Linked DNA regions of Homo sapiens. The protein of the gene in region 1 interacts with the protein of each later gene in a pairwise test. Each region holds a gene or a part of one and is shown on either strand. Other genes may lie near its edges. The genes, in order: NF1 and HTR6.

Region 1 (7,593 bases):
TTTATTCTAGTTCTCTACATTCCAAAGGTGTCAGTAGATGTTTCTTCTTATTGATGCTATTTGGGACATCTGCTTTCATTTATAGTTCTACATAAGAATGCCAATATTAAAATAGGATATAATGTAAATTTTATTTTTATCTGACAAGAATTAGGCATATCATTTCTTCAAAGTAATCATTTAAGGAAATAATGCCCTCACTCAAACACTGCTGCTCCTCCTCCAAATAATTAGAAATAACCTTGGAGCCAGTGTTGCAGCCCTAGAAAACATCCTGGTACTTAATGTCATTTCCTATATTTTATTTTTTTTTGAGACTGAGTCTCGCTCTGTCACCCAGGCTGGAGTGCAGTGGTACAGTCTCGGCTCATTGCAACCTCTGCCTCCCAGGCTCAAGTGACCCTTCCACCTCAGCCTCCCAAGTAGCTGGGCCTACAGGTGCACACCAACACACCTGGCTAATTTTTGTATTTTTTTTTTTTTTTTTTTTTAGAGATAGGGTTTTGCCATGTTGCCCAGGCTGGTCTTGAACTCCTGGCCTCAAGCAATCCGCCCGCCTCAGCCTCCCCAAGTGCTGGGATTACAAGCGTGAGCCACTGCACCCAGCTCTGTATTTTCAAATTACTATTTTATATTGATGCTACATTACTGTCTTAGAAAAGCATAGAGATACTTTGCAAGTGACTGAAGATAGTATTGATAGAGATTTAAAATTTTTGAATACCAATCTCTTAATCTCTGAAGGAGTCAAATGAATATACTCATCCTTTACTGGATATTTTATAATAAATTGTATTTACTGACAGGCCTGTAAATAAAATCTAGTATTTTTGAGGCCTCAGGTAAAATAGAATTTTCATATTGATTAGGCTGTTCCAATGAATATTTTTTAATTAAAAATTAAATTGGTAGAGTGATTAAAAACATGTTATTTTCCTTCTTCAACTAGATTACAGATCTGCTTGATGTTGTACTAGACAGTTTCATCAAAACCAGTGCAACAGGTGGCTTGGGATCAATAAAAGCTGAGGTGATGGCAGATACTGCTGTAGCTTTGGCTTCTGGAAATGTGAAATTGGTTTCAAGCAAGGTAATCACTTTTCTTTTGCCTTCTGTACTATAGCATATCTGTTTTATCATCAGGAGGTTTTTTGTTTTGTAATTACTTTTAAATTAAACTGAACTTTTTTGTGCTAAAACTTTGAGTCCCATGTTTTTTTTTTTAAAAAAAAAAATCCTGCTTCTTTACAGGTTATTGGAAGGATGTGCAAAATAATTGACAAGACATGCTTATCTCCAACTCCTACTTTAGAACAACATCTTATGTGGGATGATATTGCTATTTTAGCACGCTACATGCTGATGCTGTCCTTCAACAATTCCCTTGATGTGGCAGCTCATCTTCCCTACCTCTTCCACGTTGTTACTTTCTTAGTAGCCACAGGTCCGCTCTCCCTTAGAGCTTCCACACATGGACTGGTCATTAATATCATTCACTCTCTGTGTACTTGTTCACAGCTTCATTTTAGTGGTAAGTTCTAGGAAAGGAATTTGTGTTTACCAGTTCCTTTCTCCATTTTACTTCACCTGATCAATATAGATTATCTTATTTATGTTTGTGCTCTAACACCAAGTTGCTAATTTAAGCCTCCAGTAATGACATGAAATATTACCAAAAAGAAAATAAATTACTTCCATTCCATATCAAGCTATAGTAAAGATTTTCTATGCATACTTGTCATGTAGAGTTATCCCATAAGCGGAATACTCAGTGCCAGTTGACCATGTTCAGTTACCAGCACTAATTTGTAGATAAATGAAGCAAGGAGCATTAATACAATGTATCTAGAGGTTTGATTTAGGGAACATGATTATGTAATTTTTATATGGTATTCAAATTTTCTAAATTCAAAATGAAACATGGAACTTTAGAAATTAAAAAGTAATATTTTCTGTCTTTACTTGTTCCTTTATTCTCTTACAGAAGAGACCAAGCAAGTTTTGAGACTCAGTCTGACAGAGTTCTCATTACCCAAATTTTACTTGCTGTTTGGCATTAGCAAAGTCAAGTCAGCTGCTGTCATTGCCTTCCGTTCCAGTTACCGGGACAGGTCATTCTCTCCTGGCTCCTATGAGAGAGAGACTTTTGCTTTGACATCCTTGGAAACAGTCACAGAAGCTTTGTTGGAGATCATGGAGGTATAGAAGCCAAAATGATAAGAAACTAAGTTAAAATCTTTTTTTAAAAATATGTTAATACTATATAGAAGAAATATTGGTTTATTGTGCTATTTTGTACTTAATGCTTAAATAAAAACACTTGCATGGACTGTGTTATTGGTAACAGGTCACTTAATGACATCATAATAAACATTATTTAAACAGTTCTAAAAACATTTATGTACAATATGTATTCAGAGTATCCCCTTTTTTAGGCATGCATGAGAGATATTCCAACGTGCAAGTGGCTGGACCAGTGGACAGAACTAGCTCAAAGGTATGTCCTAAATTAAATATAAGTTGTAAAAATATGCATATTGTTGAAAATACAGCTATTACTGTATGATCAATGTTATAATTTATTATTTAGTATATATAAACACAAAGGTTTTTATAAGTTCTGTGGATCTTTTAATTGCAGATTTGCATTCCAATATAATCCATCCCTGCAACCAAGAGCTCTTGTTGTCTTTGGGTGTATTAGCAAACGAGTGTCTCATGGGCAGATAAAGCAGATAATCCGTATTCTTAGCAAGGTACCTGTTCCGCCCTCACTTCTCCCAAATATTTATGGTTCTCAAGTTGTAAAGCATATCTTTCATTTTTCTAAAAGACGTTTAAATTTGAGGTCAATGAAATATCTTATATGTTACTTATTAAGCCTTTAAAATGTATTTTGATTATTTATTGTAATTCTTTGAAGAAGTCTTCTCTAAAGAAGCTGTCTTTATATGTAAACTCTGATTACTTCATTAAGGAAGATGTCTTTAAAATAAAATATGTTGCCTCTTTTGCTAAGCAGGTACACTTAGTATTTTACCAGTTTTCAAAGCATTTAATTATATGGTAAGACTATAGCCTTGCATAAAATTATTTAATTTGTAATTACTATAATAATGTCTGACTCTTATAATGTAGAAATGTCAAAAAATAAGAAAACAAATGTACATTAAGCTAGCTACCAAGATCACCATAGCATGAGAAATCATTCTAGCATTTATTAAATAAGTAAATGTTCCTGAATTCATTCCGAGATTCAGTTTAGGAGTTAATGTTTTATTTCAATGAAAGTAAAATAAAAAATTCTGTTTTCCTAAAAGGCACTTGAGAGTTGCTTAAAAGGACCTGACACTTACAACAGTCAAGTTCTGATAGAAGCTACAGTAATAGCACTAACCAAATTACAGCCACTTCTTAATAAGGTAATTACTGTATAGAAAATGAGTGCATTCATTTTGGGTATCAGTGTTGAATGTTACTTTCTTTCAAAGAGTTTAGAAAATAAGATGAATTGAGAATAAGTTATAAAGAAAAAACTATAGTTAAAGTAGAACCTCTTAAAGTTTAGTTGTTTGAAGTAGTCATATTAGAAGAAGAGTAAGTATGGATAGTATGTTCTCAAGCGCTTGTAAGTTTTTGGTCTCATCAGTGCTAAAGGAAAGATAGGTATATATTCTTAATTATTTTATCTTATAACTATTAATTATCTGCTATTGCCAAGTACTGTTTTAGGCGCTAGAGATAGAGTACTAACAAAGCCCATAAAACTCACTGCCTTCATGGAGCTTACTTTCTGGGGTGGGTGTGGAGGTTGGGGAGTGAATGGATAATGAAGTAAACAAAATACGTAGTATGTTAGTGATTATTACTATGGAGAAATTAAAGCTGGGAGAAGTATACTTGATCGTCATAAGAGTTTGGGTGCCAAATGAAGATTATATTTAAAAGGAGTAAAATGAAGTGGCCACTGTTTTAGGATGGTCTGACCTTATCCCATTTTTATATTTAAGATATCTGGAAATCATGTTTTTGTATTAATAAAATGAAAAAGATTCGATAATGGCATGGTATTACCATCCAGTTCTAAAGTGGTTTAATTCTGTGATTTGAGTACAAAGGTATGCCAGACTTGGGAGAAATAACAGAGAAATAATACCTGTTATATTCCTGGTTTGTCTACAAGCATTCTAATTTTGTATTATACAAAATGGTTCTCTGGTCCCCATCTTCTAAGTGAAAATGAGCTCAGAAGGGCTAAATAACTTGCCCAAAGTCACATACCTAATAAAAGAACCATGATTCTAATGTGATACTATTTGACTCTAAAGTCCATGTATTTTCCCTAATATCACAGTGCTAAGTAAAGATTGCCAGTAATAAATACTTTTAATTCAGAGCAGCAAGAGATTACCATACTGGTTAAGAGTGACAAGAAGTTGAAAAGACAGTTTAAAATAAAGTTAAAGGGAAACATAGGAGTTAATGTAGGTAGAGAGAAAGGGAGAGAGCTGCACAAGAATGCCAGGACAATGGAGGGAAGGTGGGTAGAACATTCTAGTTGTAATGGAGAAGCTTTTCAAAGGAATCGAGAGAGGGAAAGTTGTGAGGACTGGATAGACCTCATCTCACATTCAGCATTGTTCAAAAGAGTTTGGAAATGTACAGTTTTTAAGCAGACAAGTCATACGATGAAAGCAGGACTTAGCTCCTGGTGGTAGTGTGCACAGTGGATTGGAGTAGGGAGAAACTGAAGTAAAAAGAATCCACCTTTATAATAAAGAAGGTTGGCATGTGGTAATGTCATTAGCAATAAGAAAGAAATGACAAAAGATACAAAAGAGACTACTCTAGAAGAATCAACAAACCTTGGTGACTGGATTTAGAAATCAAAGAACAGGGAGAAGTCAAAGGAGGTGCTAAGTAACGTTCTCAGTCCAGCTAACAGTGTCTTTAGTTATACATATGGAAAAGTGAAGAGCTTACTCATATCTTTATCTTCCCCAAAAGAGAAAACATGGGTAATTTAGGAAGATAAGCTGCTTTATTTTTAACTGCAGTGTGTTTTGAAAGAGACTATGTCATGATTCATCTTACTAGCCTCAAACATATCTTCTTTGCCAGGACTCGCCTCTGCACAAAGCCCTCTTTTGGGTAGCTGTGGCTGTGCTGCAGCTTGATGAGGTCAACTTGTATTCAGCAGGTACCGCACTTCTTGAACAAAACCTGCATACTTTAGATAGTCTCCGTATATTCAATGACAAGGTAAGCAAACTTTGCCTTGAGGTTCCTAGATTACTCAAATTTAGTACTCTTCCATCTTTTCTTGTTGCTATTCTTTTAAAATCACAAGAAGTCCATAACTTAAGTAGGAATTTGTATAATGTAACTTATTGTGAGTATATTTCCTTACCAGCTCATAAAGAACTATGTAAACTTGAATGCATATTTTTTACATAAAAATAGCAAAAAAAAAAAAACAAAAAAAAAACAGTACTGGCCTAATACTAGTAGAATTACAGAATAAGGATAAATAATACATGATCATCCTTACAGAATGAGCATAAACAATACATGGTAATAATATTAATAGCTACCATGCCAGGCCGTATGCTAAACACTATACATTTATTTTTAATTTTCATAACCTTAAGGTAAAGGTTAGCATTCTCTGCCCCCCATTTCACACGTGAAGAAATAATCTAAAAGTAATCTTAGTTTTACTTAATAATGCCACTTAATGAAAAATACGTATAATTCATAGTAGATAAGGAAGTTGGAGAGTCTAAAGGAAACTTTTGGGTACTTAATTTTACTAGTTTTTTTATTCTGTCTAATCTTACTTTAAAATATACCATTAGTGGCCAGGAGTGGTGGCTCATACCTGTAGTCCCAGCACTTTGGGAGGCCAAGACAGGTGGATCAGTTGAGCTCAGGAGTTAGAGAACAGCCTGGGCAACTTGCAAAACCCCATCTCTACAAAAAAGGCAAAAATTAGCTAGGCATGGTGGCATGCACCTACAATCCCAGCTACTCGGGAGGTGAGGTAGGAGGATTGCTTGAGCCTGGGAGGCAGAGGTTGCAGTGAGCTGAGATCACGCCACTGCACTCCAGCTTGGGCAACAGAGCAAGACCCTGTCTCCAAAAAAAAGTGTGTATACATATATTACATACACACATATATATGTAATGTATGTGTATATATATATATAAAGTGTGTGTGTGTGTGTGTGTGTGTGTACACACATAAAATATGTAAAATCCAACTCCAATTAAGGTTAATAAATGTTAGGAGGGGTGCTAATGGGGTGTGTGTGTGTGTGTGCACGTGTGCATGTGTGTGTGTATATATATATGAACATGGGCAAATTACTTCTTAGTTCCTTTCTAATTTGTAAAATGGAGATCTAATTGGGGTTGGATTTTAGTTCATAGAGAATAGAGGAGAGAATAAAATAGTATGAAATTACGTCCCTTTTGTCTTTGGATAAAAATGGGAAGGGTCTAGGAGAAAAGAGGGGAATGTTTTTAAAAGAATGTGTATATACAGTGAGATTTGCTTGAAGTGAAATTAACTGAACTGTGGGTACAAAGAACAGGATTATGGTTTTAAGTGTAAAAAGATACTTGGTCTAAACATTATTAGTTCAGTCTACCAGATGTAGTGTGAACCTGGAACAGATATGGGTCTGAAAAATATAGAAGCAAAATTTTAGAGGTAAGAGGTCTTATGGAGTTTATTAATCAGACCTCCATTTTGCAAATTAGAAAGGAACTAAGAAGTTAAGTAACTTGCCCATGCTTGTACATCTGTTTTGGGACTAGAACCCCTCTGTCCTAATTCTCATTGCCGTTTTTCTAAAACTGTTTTGGGACAGTGGTGGTCAGCGATATCTAGTTGTTGGCTATTTATATGTTAAGAATATTTGCAAATTGGCCGGGTGCAATGGCGCATGTTTGTAATTCCAGCACTCTGGGAGGCCGAGTTGGGAGGATCACTTGAGGTTAGGAGTTCGAGACCAGCCTGGCCAACATGGTGACACCCTGTCTCTACTAAAAATACAAAAATTAGCCAGGGTGGCACATGTTTGTAACTCCAGCGACCTGGGAGGCTGAGGTGGGAAGATCTCTTGAACCCAGGAGGTTGCAGTGAGCCAAGGTGGTGCCACTGCACTCCAGCCTGGGCGACAGAGTAAGACTCCATCTCAAAAAAAGAATATTTGCAAATGGAGCATTGCAAATGGGGCATCTGCCTCGGTATTTTCATCTTCAAAACAGCCCAGTAGCGGGAGCTAATATTGATTCTAGTGCCCTTTGGATGCTAGGCATCAGAGTTAATAAGCATGTTAAAAGTCACCGGGATGTAAATTGACAGTCATTTATTTTGTATTGTAAATAAAAGTGATTTCATCTTCCACCATCTTCTTATTTATATGCTTGACTGTCTTGCACCAGTTAATTTGTAGTAGCTAAAATGTTCTGTGGTTTTCTGCAGTCAACTGAAAATAATTTCTCTCAAATTGAAAGGATTACTTATCTTGTCATACTATTGAACACAAAATTAAGTGAGCCTTTAAAGAAAGCTACTGTGTGAAC
Region 2 (12,516 bases), on another chromosome or scaffold:
TTATTCTCCATAAGAACAAGTCATAAAAATGACTTGTTCATTTTGCCTCCCTGACTTGAATATAAGCTCCAGGAGGGTCACACATATTGAGATCAGTTTTTTTGCTTTTTTTTTTGTTTTTGTTTTTGTTTTTTTTGAGACGGAGTCTCGCTCTGTTGCCCAGGCTGGAGGGCAGTGGTGCGATCTTGGCTCACTGCAACCTCTGCCTCATGGGTTTAAGCGATTCTTCTGCCTCAGCCTCCTGAGTAGCTGGGATTACAGGCACCCACCACTATACCAGGCTAACTTTTGTATTTTTGGTAGAGATGGGGTTTCACCATATTGGCCAGGTTGGTCTTGAACTCCTGATCGAGGTCAGTTTTGATCCCCACTGTGCATAGTAGGTCCCATCTTGTTTCAGTGCCTGGGAATGGGGTAGGTGCTCTTAGCTCAAGGCCTTGCATTGTCTATAAGTGAGTGCCTGCTCTTGCCATCCAGGCCACAGTGCACCTGACTCCTATTGACCCCCTGGAGGGGTGGGTGTGTAGACCGACCAGGCCTGAGACCCAGTGACTTAGGTCGCAGGTCTTGAGGAAAGTCCCAGCTGGGCTCTTTTGGTGTAGCCCTGAGTGGTGAAAGCTCTAGGAGGGTGGGGGTTGCATTGGAGGTCACTGGGCACATGGGGACTTGGCAGAGGGGTGAAAGGCTAACACCCTCCTTGGCAGTCCCCCAGACAAGCTTGCCTGTCCCACCCAGGTGGGTGAGGCCCAAAGTTGCCCCTGCCTATCACCTGGGGTGGGGGCAGGGCCCCACATGGACTGGGAGTCCTGGCTGCCGCCCAGCTCCTTCTCCCTATCCCTGCTCCCTGTAGAACATTCTTGAGTCTTGGCAGGTGGCTGGGACTCTGACTTGCTTCTTCAGGGGTGGGATGGCTGCCTTAGGCCATATACCCTGGGTTCTTGCTTTTTGTTGTTGTTATTGTTGTTTTTTAAGAGACAGGGTCTTGCTCTGTCACCCAGGCTGGAGGGCTGGAATGTAGTGGCGTGATTATAGCTCACTGCAGCTTAGAATTGATCATAGCTCATTCCAGCCTGAAGAGCTGGTATGCACTGGCCCGATCATAACTCACTGAACTCTTGGGCTCAAGCGATCCTCCTGTCTTGGCCTCCCAAAGTGCTAGGGTTACAGGCTTCCCTGGGTTCTTGAAAAGGAGTGTTTCACAAGCTTCAGGCATTCAAGAACTGCCTGCGGATATCTTCCTTAATGCCTCTTCCACCACCACCTCCACACCTTAAGCCACTTAATTCACATGCACTTGGCATTTTATTTATTTATTTATTAGACACAGGGTCTCACTATATTGCCCAGGCTGGCCTCGAGCTCCCACTTCAGCCTCCCGAGTAGCTGGAATTGCAGGTGCATGCCCCCGTGCCTGGCATTCTTGACATTTTCTTTAAATCATCTCTTTTATATTTTTACTTCCACAAATTTGTGTAGAAAGAAAACTTCGTATCTCCTCTAGAAATGGAAAATCTGTATCCTTTGCCATAAATAGAAGGTGATCACAAACACCACTTCAGTGAAACTGAAGAAGCTCCAGCCCTATCACTGAAATGCAGCTTGGTGTGGTTGAGGTGATGAGCCTAGGGCCTGCTTTCTCTTTGTAGCGTGCTAGAAGGTATTACAAACATGGTAGCATCAACGTGGGACTTTCTCTTGACGCACCTAGAAGAGCTGGAAGACAGCTGTAATGGGCTGACGTGCTCACTCTGTGATTCACTCATTTTATGGGGTGTCCCTTTACCATCTAAAATCATCTCCATTCCCACAGTTCAGGAAGCTCTGCTCTCGTGACTAAGGATGTGAGAAGTTGGCTGGTCTGGGTGAGGTTGGGGCGGGAGAGATCAGGATTCCTAGTTGCAGCGGTGCCAGTACCACACAGATTTTCTTTCCATGAATCTCGCTGGCTGGTACTAGGATTGAACCTGAGTCTGTGGTCTTGGAACCTGGGCAGGAGTCTCCCAGGTGCTAACAGCTGCAGCCCCACAATCTGTGAGCACTCACTCTGTACCAGGCACTGAGCTAAACTTATTAATTCCCCAAACACCCAATGAGTCAAGTACTACCAGCACCCCTGTTAGACAGGTGGGGAAACTGAGGCTCAGAGCGAGAGGTGACTTGCCCAAGATTGCACAGTTGGTAAGTGAGGTTTAAGCTCGGATCTGGCTGGTGCCATCGCCCTGTGCTGGTGTGCTGCCTGTGGGCAGTGATGCTCTTGAAATGCTTTGCTCGGGGACCCCACACCTTGCCCCTTTTCTTCTCTGTGCCTTCTGGTCTTCTCTGTTGGGTCCTCCTGATCCGCCTGAGCCATGGCATCCCTAGTCCTCAGTCCTCGGAGCATCTCGTCCTTTTTCCACATTTGCCCCGTTAGTGACCTCATCTTGTCTCGTAACTGAAAATACCACCCACACGCTGATGACTTCCTACCTGGGCTGCTTACAGGCACGTGCTGCCACGCCCAGCTAATTTTTGTATTTTTAGTAGAGACAGGGTTTCACCATGTTGGCCAGGCTGGTCTCGAACTCCTGACCTTACGTGATCTGCTAGCCTCGGCCTCCCAAAGTGCTGGGATTACAGGCGTGAGCCACTGCGCCTGGCCCTGACTTCCTGATTCCGCTCTTCCTCCCTTTCAACCTTCCGCAGTGGCCCCAATGATCCCCTTTACAATGCAGTTCCTGCTGCATCATTCCTCTGCTCTGGCAGCCTTGTGTCTCACATCACCTGGCCCTCTGACCCTATCTGGCCTCCTCTCCTTCTATAATCCTGCTTGTTTCTTCTCTTTCAGCCATACTGGCCTCCTTGCTGTTCCTTGAACACACCAAGCCCATTCTGCCTCACTTGCGGTTCCTTCTGCTTGGAGTGCCCTTTCTTCAGGTCTCCACCCTGTTCTCCCACTAATTTCCATCATTTCCTTCCAGCCTCTGTTGAATTGCCTCCCCTAATCCCTCTCTCAAGAGTAGCACCTCTCACCCTCCCCAGGTCCTCTCCAGTCCTCATTTCCTAAGTTATTTCTCTCAGCAGCACCTCCTACCCCCTGACGTGTTCTATACCTACCCATTTTTATTTATTTACTGTTTATTTCCTTCTTCTAGAATTTAGGCCTATGAGGGTGGGGAACTTGTTTTTCTGCCTTTTTTTTTTTTTTTGAGACAGAGTCTCACTTTCTCGCCCAGGCTGGAGTGCAGTGGCGTGATCTTGGCCCACTGCAACCTCCGCTTCCCAGGTTCAAGCAATTCTCCTGCCTCAGCCTCCGGAGTAGCTGGGCTATAGGTGCACATCGCCACACCGGGCTAATTTTTTGTATTTTAGTAGAGATGGGGTTTCACTGTGTTGCCCAGGCTGGTCTTGAAACCCTGAGCTCAGGCAATCCACCCGCCTTGGCTTTCCAAAGTGCTAGGATTACAGGCGTGAGCTACCATGCCTGGCCTGTCTTTCTGTTTTCCCCCATGGTCCCAGGAATTAGGGGCACCTGGCACATCATGGGTGCTCAGTATGTATTGATGGAAGGAATGCAGTGTACACAGTGCTTCAGGGAGCCTGGTATTCCAGCCCTGTTTGTGCGGTTGCCTGTTTTCTCATGCCTTTCAGAGTCACTTCTTGAGTGTCATGATCCTGAACTTTTTATCGTGTGAATTCATTTGCTTGGTGACATGTATTGACACCTGCTTTGCACAGCAGCTGTTCTAGGCTGTGTATGTAGTGGTGAACGAGACCAACAGTGCCTGCCCTCTTGAAATCTGTTCTAGTTAGGAGTACAGACATTAATCATCAAACTGTACCACGATGAGGATTATGGAGCTTATAGGAGGGATGCTTCACCCAGCAAACATTCAAAATCTATTATTCACTGTGTATGTTTGAAGATGAAAGCAAAGCACTCACACCAAGCCCTAAAGTGAAAGGCTGGAGGGGTCTTCATGGGTTGGTTAGGCCAGCGCCTTACTTCTAAGGCAGAGTGACTCAGGGGCCTCTCAAGCCAGAAATGTGTCTGTTCTAATCCCCCCGCTTTCTGGAAAGCCCATTCTCTTGGTTTGAACGTGACGTGTGCAAATTCTGCCTCTGTTCCTGCTTTCAAATCCACTCGGCTCCTTAAGTAAGCCTCCTGCAGGCCGTTTTCCTGATTGCCTGGTGAACGGCCTGCACTTTGGGAAAATGCATCTGAGAAATTGCATTGGCCCTCCTGGGTCACCGCCTCTTTCTTCCCACCAGAGCTGGCCTGGAGGTGGAGGCCCCCTCAATGTTTGGACCTAAAGGAAGTGATGAGAATGAATCAGATGTGGGTGTCTTGGACCCCTTCCCTTTTCCTGTGCCCAGCCCCACTTAGCCTTGGCTTCCTGCCCCATTCCACTCTCTAGCTTCCCTGCAGAGGGAAAGGAGCTGGGCATAGGTCTCGAGGCCCCAGTTCCTCTGGGGTCAGAACATGGGAGCTGGTCAGCCTTGAGCATTTCATCCCCTCTCCATATGTCTATTTATGGAAATGGGCTTTTAAAAGGCCACTGGTTGGCTTAGTGATTTCCACTAGGTCTTCCCACCACCTCAGGGCTGGGAGGAAGGGGTCCTGCTTAGCACTGTGGCTGGGAGTGTGGGCTGGGGATGGAGGAAGAGCCGTGGGGCAGAGTGAGGAGCTACCAGGGCAGGGGAGTGTGTGTGTTGGGAGCAGGGTGGAAGGTGGGGGCCTGGATGTGGGTGGCACTGAGCCATCCTTGGGAGATTGTGGAGGGTCCAGGGTGTTAGGGGCAGTTTCAGAGATGCAGCATGGGCCACTGGCTTGAGGGAGAGCCCAGCAGGAGAGGCCCAGCCTCCTCCTCTTCCTGGCAGGATTTCTGGGTCTCTGTGGTCCATAACCTCATCCCATCTCTACACCTCACCTTCCTCCCCACTCCCATCCATCCTTCTCTCCTTCAGTTCCCATGTCTTCCTTCTGTGTGCCCCGTCTTCCCCTCCCCCTTCTCCTGTCCCATCAATTTCTCCCGCTTTTCCTCCTCCCCCTCCTTTTTTCACCCTCTCTCACCCAACTAAGCGTCATTCTGTCTTAGTGATCCATCTTCCCTTCCATCTCTGTCTTTCCTCCTCCTCAGAGGAGGAGGCTGTGATCACAGAAATATCTGTGAGGGGGAGGAGGGGGCCGAGCCAGGGAGAGGCTGGCAGAGTGACACTGCCGAGCATGGCAGGCTTGGCTGCTGCTCAGAGCCAGGCAGCCTGGTGCAGCCAGGGCTGGAGCAGGAGCTTGGGGGTCTGGCTGGTTAGGGTTCAAGCCCTGCCTCTTTTGCCTCATAGCTGGACGATCTTGGGCAAGGCATTTTACCTCCTTATGCTCCAGGGGTCATGACATCTATCACACAAGTCTGTTTGAAGAGTCAATTAGATAATATACATAAAATACCAGGCACATAGTAAGTGCTCAACAAATTTCAGCTAGGCAGTGACTCACAACTGTAATCCCAACACTTTGGGAGGCCAAGGCAGGAGGATTCTTTGAAGCTAGGAGTTCGAGACCAGCCTGGGCAACATAGCGAGCTCCTGTCTCTAAAAATATATATAAAAAATTAGCCAGGCCTGGTGGCACATACCTTTAGTTACAGCTATTCGAAGAGGCTGAGGTGAGAGGATTGCTTGAGCCCAGGCAACAGAGCAAGACCCCATCTTTAAAACAACAACAATAGTTGTTCGTGCCTCTCTTTTCCTGTTGTTGGTAAAATATGTTTCTGGGGAGCTCACCACCTTGACCCTTTCTAGGGAAAAACATCACTGCTGTCACCAGCACCATCACCATCATTATCAAACAGCTGAGCCAGAGACTAATAATAATGACAACAATAGCTAACACTTCTATGGGACTTCCTATGTGCTGGCACTGTTCTAACTTTCAGTGTATTATTTTATTTTATCCTTATTATAATCCTATGAGGTAGATGCTATTTTAGTGCCATTTTACAGAACAGAAAGTGGAAGCATAGATGAAGTAACTTGCTTAAGGTCACTCCACTAGTTTGTAACAGAGCCAGGATTTGAAACCAGGCAGTCTGGCTCCAGAGTCTGTCTTGTAACTCTCACACTATGATCAGATGATGGTAACAAAATTTAATTGTGGGCTGGGCGTGGTGGCTCACGCCTGTAATCCCAGCACTTTGGGAGGCCGAGGTGGGTGGATCACCTGAGATCGGGAGTTTGAGACTAACATGGAGAAACCCCATCTCTACTAAGGTACAAAATTAGATGGGCATGGTGGTGCACACCTGTAGTCCCAGCTACTTGGGAGGCTGAGGCAGGAGAATCGCTTGAACCCGGGAGGCAGAGGTTGTGGTGAGCCGAGATCGCGCCATTGCACTCCAGCCTGGGCAACAAGAGCGAGACTTCGTCTCAAAAAATAAATAAATAAATAAATAAAATTAATTGCACAAAGGAATACATAAATACACTTTAAAAATTCAACAATAGGGATGAAGGAAAAGACCTCCAAATTCCAGCTAATCACCTTTCACTCCCAGGGACATGCATCAATTTAGGATATGTCCTTCTAGGTCTTTTTTTTTTTTTTTTTTTCTGTTAGGACAGAGTGTCACTCTGTCACCCAGGCTGGAGTGCAGTGGTACAACCACGGCTCACTGCAGCCTTGACCTCTTCTGACTCAGGTGATCCTCCCACGTCAACCTCCGGAGTAGCTGGGGCTACAGACGCACATCACCATGCCTGGCTAATTTTTGTATTTTTTGTAGAGATGGGGTTTCACCATGCTGCCCAGGCTGGTCTTGAACTCCTGGACTCAAGCAATCCACCTGCCTCGGCCTCCCAAAGTGCTGGGATTACAGGTGTGAGCCACTGCACCTAGCCCTTCCGGGTCATTTTCTATGTGCTTATGTATTTATACAGGTACTTAAAGAAACTTGGTGCTTTGTGTTGGATATTGTTTTTTAAACAAATAGGATCATGCTGTATCTATTACTTTGCAACCTGCTATTATAATTTAATAATCATGGAGATCTTTTCATTTGATTGATTCATTCTTTTAAAACATCTGTGTAGTATTCTGTAGTGGGAATTCACCGTGGTTTATTTAAGCCACTCTTCTCTTTTTTTTTTTTTTTTTTGAGACAAACTCTCACTCTGTCACCCAGGCTGGAGTGTGGTGGTGTGATCTCGGCTCACTGCAGCCTCCACCTCCTGGGTTCAAGTGATTCTCCTGCCTCAGCCTCCTGAGTAGTGGGACTACAGGCATGCACCACCACACCTGGCTAATTTTTTTATTTTTAGCAGAGACAGGGTTTTGCCATGTTGGCCAGGCTGGTCTCGAACTACTGACCTCAAGTGATCTGCCCACCTTGGCCTCCCAAAGGGCTGAGATTATAGGCGTGAGCCACTGTGCCCAGCCTAAACCACTCTTCTTTTGATGGACATTAAGGCTGTTTCCAATTTTTTCCTATCACAAGTAGTGCTGTGGGACACATTCTTGGATATGTGAAGCGTGCAGACATGAATGTAGGTGTTGGCTGGAAGCTGTATGTGTGATTGTTGGCTGGAAGGGCCCTGGATTGTCCTTCAGGAAGCTGCCCTCTGACACTGATACAGAAGGGAGATGCAAACGACAGGACATGGCCCCAAGGGGCTGCGAGGTGCTTATGGGGGAGAGAGAATCCAGAAGGGTGATGCCAGCATCAGCCAGATGCCGGGGTGTGGACTAGTGACAGCCATTGGCTTCTGCTCCATGAGGGCCTCTTGCTGACAGTGGTGGGGTTTCTGTAACCCCACCTGACTGGGCCCATGGATGCCGTCTCCAAAGGTGGAAGCAGCTTGGTGAAGTGGGCAGAGTGGTGTTCCTGAGGCCAGAAATGATGGAATCCCTAACTCAACTCTTAACTGCTGTGTGACTTCTGGCAAGTCATTTTGCCTCTCCGAGCCTCAGTTGTCTCATCTGCAAAATGGGGATGACAATGCCTACCTCTCATAAAGACTGAATGACCTAATGACTATCAAATGCTGATGTGTAGTAAGTGCTCGAGAAATGGGGATGATAATGCTGATTTGTTCAGGGCCACTCAGGTTTTGGTTGGAGGCCTTGTACTGGAACAGTGTGACCTTGGGAAGGGTAGAGTGTCCTCTACCCTTTCTGAGCCTCAGTTTCCTTCTCTCTTTCCTCTTCCCTGTGTTCTTGAGTCAACTCTCTGGAAAGCAGAGGAGAAAGAAAAACCTGGAGTTGTTCCCAGGGAGACTAGAAAGGGAATCTCAGTTCATCTTCACCCCATTCTCTGGAGCTCCTTCCCCCAATGATTGACCTGAGATATTCCCCCTAGTGCCTCAGTTTCCCCCATGCCCTAGAGCTGTGATAAGATCAGGGCTACCTCCTCTCCCCTGCCCTCCTCAGGTCACTAAGGGTCAGAGCGATGCCTGGATGAGACAGTGTCTCATCCCTCTCCATGCCGTCTATTCCCATTGATGGCAGCAATTTGAAGGTGTGGCAGGTCTTAGGAGATTCTTTTGGGGAAGCAGGAGCCTCTTCCTCCAGGCTGACCATGGTGTGGTCACAAAAGCCATATAGAGTCCACTCTGGAGGAGAGAAAACTAGAAGAGGAGAGAGGAGAGTAAAACCCTCTTTTACTCCCTTGCTAACTTGGAATGACTTTGGAGCAGACTCGTGTATGATGGGGTGGAGTCGGAGGAGAGCATCCTCTAGTCATAGCATCTGAGCCGCAGCGTGGTGACTCAGAGCATTTGTCTTGGTGTCTGTGCTGCTTTGGGGAGGCCAGAGCTGCTGGCAGAAGGACAGGCTCCCCAACAGTGCTCAAAATCACCCCAACCTCACAACACATATCACTGAAACAGCAACATGGCTACCAGGTATTTAGCACCTACTCAACGTCAGACTCTGTGCATGCATTTATTATCCATAGCTTCACAGCGACGCCGTAAGCTGAGTATCATTTCTCCCATTTTGCAGATGTGGAAACAGAGGCTCTCTCAAGATCACAGAGCGAGTAAGTGGTAGAGGCCACTTTGATTTGAAGCCAGATCACCTGTCTTAAAAGCCCAGGTTTTGCCTCTGTACAATGCTGTCTCACCAAGACAGAAGGGAGAAACCAAGGCCTCTGTTGTGAATTTGTATAACCTTGATATTTGTACAACCAGATTTCATGTGAAGAAACACGTTGAGGGGTGGGGATTACGATGTGCTTCGTCTCCCTGCCCCAGCAACCTCCTTGCCATTTCAGAATTAGAATTCCAGCTTCTATGAAAAGACCGCGTGTAGTTGGGGTTTCAGCACCATGGACAAGACACCAACTCTGGAGGCCTAGAAAGAGCCGGGGCTGGAGGAGAGGGCATGCGCAGCAGAGTGGGGTGGGGTGTTGGCTTTGGTGCTCCCTGGAGTTGACACATCTTGGCTTTGCCTCCTCCGCCTTTCCATCTGCGGAAGGTTGCCTGGGAATCTGGCTCTGCTCCTGCCTCCTTCTGACCTCATCTCCCCATATCCAACCCACCTCTGGCCTCGAGAACTAAGCAGGGCTCTCACGCAATTTAGGAACTGGACAAATCCCAGTGCCGGGAAAATCCCTGGCTGTCAAAGCCCAGATGTATTCACAGACCGCAAACACACCCTTTGCGTAGCTCATGATGAATTGTGCACACCACTGCCCACGGGCATTAAATAGTAAATAGAGGTGGGCCTAATTTTGTGTAAATCTAATATATGAAAATCCACGTTGATTACAGAAACACATGGTTTAGAGGAGGGCTTCACATCCCAGCTTTCACGGACTCCTAGGGGTTTCTGGTGGAAACCTAGAGACTTCAAGGTCATCTCTGAACCTTCTGGAAGTGTGAAACGTTGTTTTCTTGTCTGTGTGTGTGTGTGTAAAAATTTACAAGCCTTTTATTTTCTGGGGAGAGGTTTGTGTGTGTGTGTGTGTGTGTGTGAGATTTCATTAGATTTTCAAAAGGCTCATGAAGTTTAACAAGTGAAGAGCACTGCTGAGCTAAAGAATGATCCAGCTCAGAGAGCCCTTTGGGACTGTGGGGGCCAGTTTGCAAAGTCAAATTCTAACCTCCCCGGGCCCATGCCTTCCTTTCAGTGGCTGCTGGGAAGTAGCTTCTTTCTCTTCCTCCCTCCTACCCCTTCCTCCTCTTCCTGTCCACTTTTGAGAATGGAGATGCCTGCCAGTTCGCAGTATAATTGAGCTATAAAATGCCAAGGTAACCAGCATCCTTAGGAGCCTATTAAGAGATTTAGCTGCAAACATTGGCTCTGTGCACACATTCTCAAAAAAGCCTTTCTATTTTGTGGGGCTCAAGAGTAATTGCCCAGGCAAGACTATTGCTCCCAAATGTGAAGACAATCCACATACAAAGCAATTGCCAAGCTCTGGACAGTAACAGGTCCTCTTTTTCAAGTACTGTTCAATTGCAATTGATTTTGTGTGTGTCTGTGTGTGTGACAGAGTCTCGCTCTGTCACCCAGGCTTGGAGTGCAGTGATGTGAGCTTGGCACACTGCAACCTCCACCTCCTGGGTTCAAGCAATTCTCCTGCCTCAGTCTCCTGAGTAGCTGGGATTACAGGTGCCTGCCACCACGCCTGGCTAATTTTTGTATTTTTAGTAGAGGCAAGGTTTCACCCTGTTGGCCAGGCTGGTCTCAAACTCCTGACCTCAAGTGATCTGCCTGCCTCGGCCTCCCAAAGTGCTGGGATTACAGGCGTGAGCCACTGTGCCCAGTCAATTGCAATTGATTTCTGTAGCGCTAAAGGCTTTGGAAGGTGCTGGGCTCATTGTAATGTGTGTGTTGGCCTGTGTCACGTATTGTCTTTGCAGGGATGGTTGTTCTTCTGAACCATCTGATTTGTGTTTCAGGTATTGCTCTGTCTCACTGCACTTCCTAGAGCTCCTTATGAAATTCTGGGTCAGGGTCAGGGCTCAGTGTGGGACCAGGATCAGAGCTCAGTCTAGGTCCACAGTTGAGGCTTGGTTTGAGAACTTGGTTATGTAGGGCTTTATGGTAGGTGTCAGGGTTCAGTGGGGGGCCAAGGTCAGGGCTTGGTTTATTGCTGATGTCAGGGCTTGGCCTGGAGTCAGGGTCAGGGCTCAGTCTAGGACTCTAGTTGGGACTCAGTCAAGGAACAGGGCCCAGTTTAATCCTGGCACTAGGGCTCAGTCTAGAATTAGGATTGAAGCTCAGTCTGTGGCTAGGATCAGGGTCAGACGGGGGCCCTTTCTCAACGGACTCATGTGGCCTTCCTTTCCGCAGGTGCCCAGGACCCCACGCCCAGGGGTGGAGTCTGCTGACAGCAGGCGTCTAGCCACGAAGCACAGCAGGAAGGCCCTGAAGGCCAGCCTGACGCTGGGCATCCTGCTGGGCATGTTCTTTGTGACCTGGTTGCCCTTCTTTGTGGCCAACATAGTCCAGGTAATGCCACGGCAGGGGGCAGGTGAGTCCGGCCCTTGCAGGAGAGGCCCTGGATCCCAGCCCAGGCATGGGGACAGGGGAGGGTAGGCTGCCTCTCGTGGTGCGTGTGTGTGTGTGTCTGCTCCATACATGCTGGGAAGGGTGGCCTGGGTCCCTGCCCTGGGACCAGGCATGATGCATCCCCTCCCCCCAGGCCGTGTGCGACTGCATCTCCCCAGGCCTCTTCGATGTCCTCACATGGCTGGGTTACTGTAACAGCACCATGAACCCCATCATCTACCCACTCTTCATGCGGGACTTCAAGCGGGCGCTGGGCAGGTTCCTGCCATGTCCACGCTGTCCCCGGGAGCGCCAGGCCAGCCTGGCCTCGCCATCACTGCGCACCTCTCACAGCGGCCCCCGGCCCGGCCTTAGCCTACAGCAGGTGCTGCCGCTGCCCCTGCCGCCGGACTCAGATTCGGACTCAGACGCAGGCTCAGGCGGCTCCTCGGGCCTGCGGCTCACGGCCCAGCTGCTGCTTCCTGGCGAGGCCACCCAGGACCCCCCGCTGCCCACCAGGGCCGCTGCCGCCGTCAATTTCTTCAACATCGACCCCGCGGAGCCCGAGCTGCGGCCGCATCCACTTGGCATCCCCACGAACTGACCCGGGCTTGGGGCTGGCCAATGGGGAGCTGGATTGAGCAGAACCCAGACCCTGAGTCCTTGGGCCAGCTCTTGGCTAAGACCAGGAGGCTGCAAGTCTCCTAGAAGCCCTCTGAGCTCCAGAGGGGTGCGCAGAGCTGACCCCCTGCTGCCATCTCCAGGCCCCTTACCTGCAGGGATCATAGCTGACTCAGATATCGTGTTCTGAAGGATGCTCCACTGTTGAGTGTAACTTGTGTGTGCAGAGGATGGGCTGGAGGACTCTGGATGTTGGGGAGAAGGACCTCTTGGTTCAGGTTAGGATGAAAACAATCATGACCTTTGCCCATTCTGTCAGGCTGGACGGGAGGGAATGCCCCCACCTGCAGGCATGGATTAATGCTGGGCTGAACCCCTTGCTACTCACAGTGTAGTCCATGGACAATCGGCATTGCCGTCACCTTTGG

Evidence for each region.
Region 2: the proteins of NF1 (region 1) and HTR6 come close enough for resonance energy transfer, tested with the Homo sapiens proteins (one study listed by BioGRID).

Annotation. Positions count from the first base shown.
Region 1 is NC_000017.11:31,335,384-31,342,976, forward strand, and holds part of NF1 (neurofibromin), read left to right. Parts: intron 1-949; coding exon 950-1,090; intron 1,091-1,251; coding exon 1,252-1,531; intron 1,532-1,984; coding exon 1,985-2,199; intron 2,200-2,435; coding exon 2,436-2,497; intron 2,498-2,641; coding exon 2,642-2,756; intron 2,757-3,320; coding exon 3,321-3,422; intron 3,423-5,121; coding exon 5,122-5,262; intron 5,263-7,593. UniProt on the Homo sapiens protein: Stimulates the GTPase activity of Ras. NF1 shows greater affinity for Ras GAP, but lower specific activity. May be a regulator of Ras activity.
Region 2 is NC_000001.11:19,667,298-19,679,813, forward strand, and holds part of HTR6 (5-hydroxytryptamine receptor 6), read left to right. Parts: intron 1-11,269; coding exon 11,270-11,428; intron 11,429-11,621; coding exon 11,622-12,071; 3' UTR 12,072-12,516. UniProt on the Homo sapiens protein: G-protein coupled receptor for 5-hydroxytryptamine (serotonin), a biogenic hormone that functions as a neurotransmitter, a hormone and a mitogen. Also has a high affinity for tricyclic psychotropic drugs.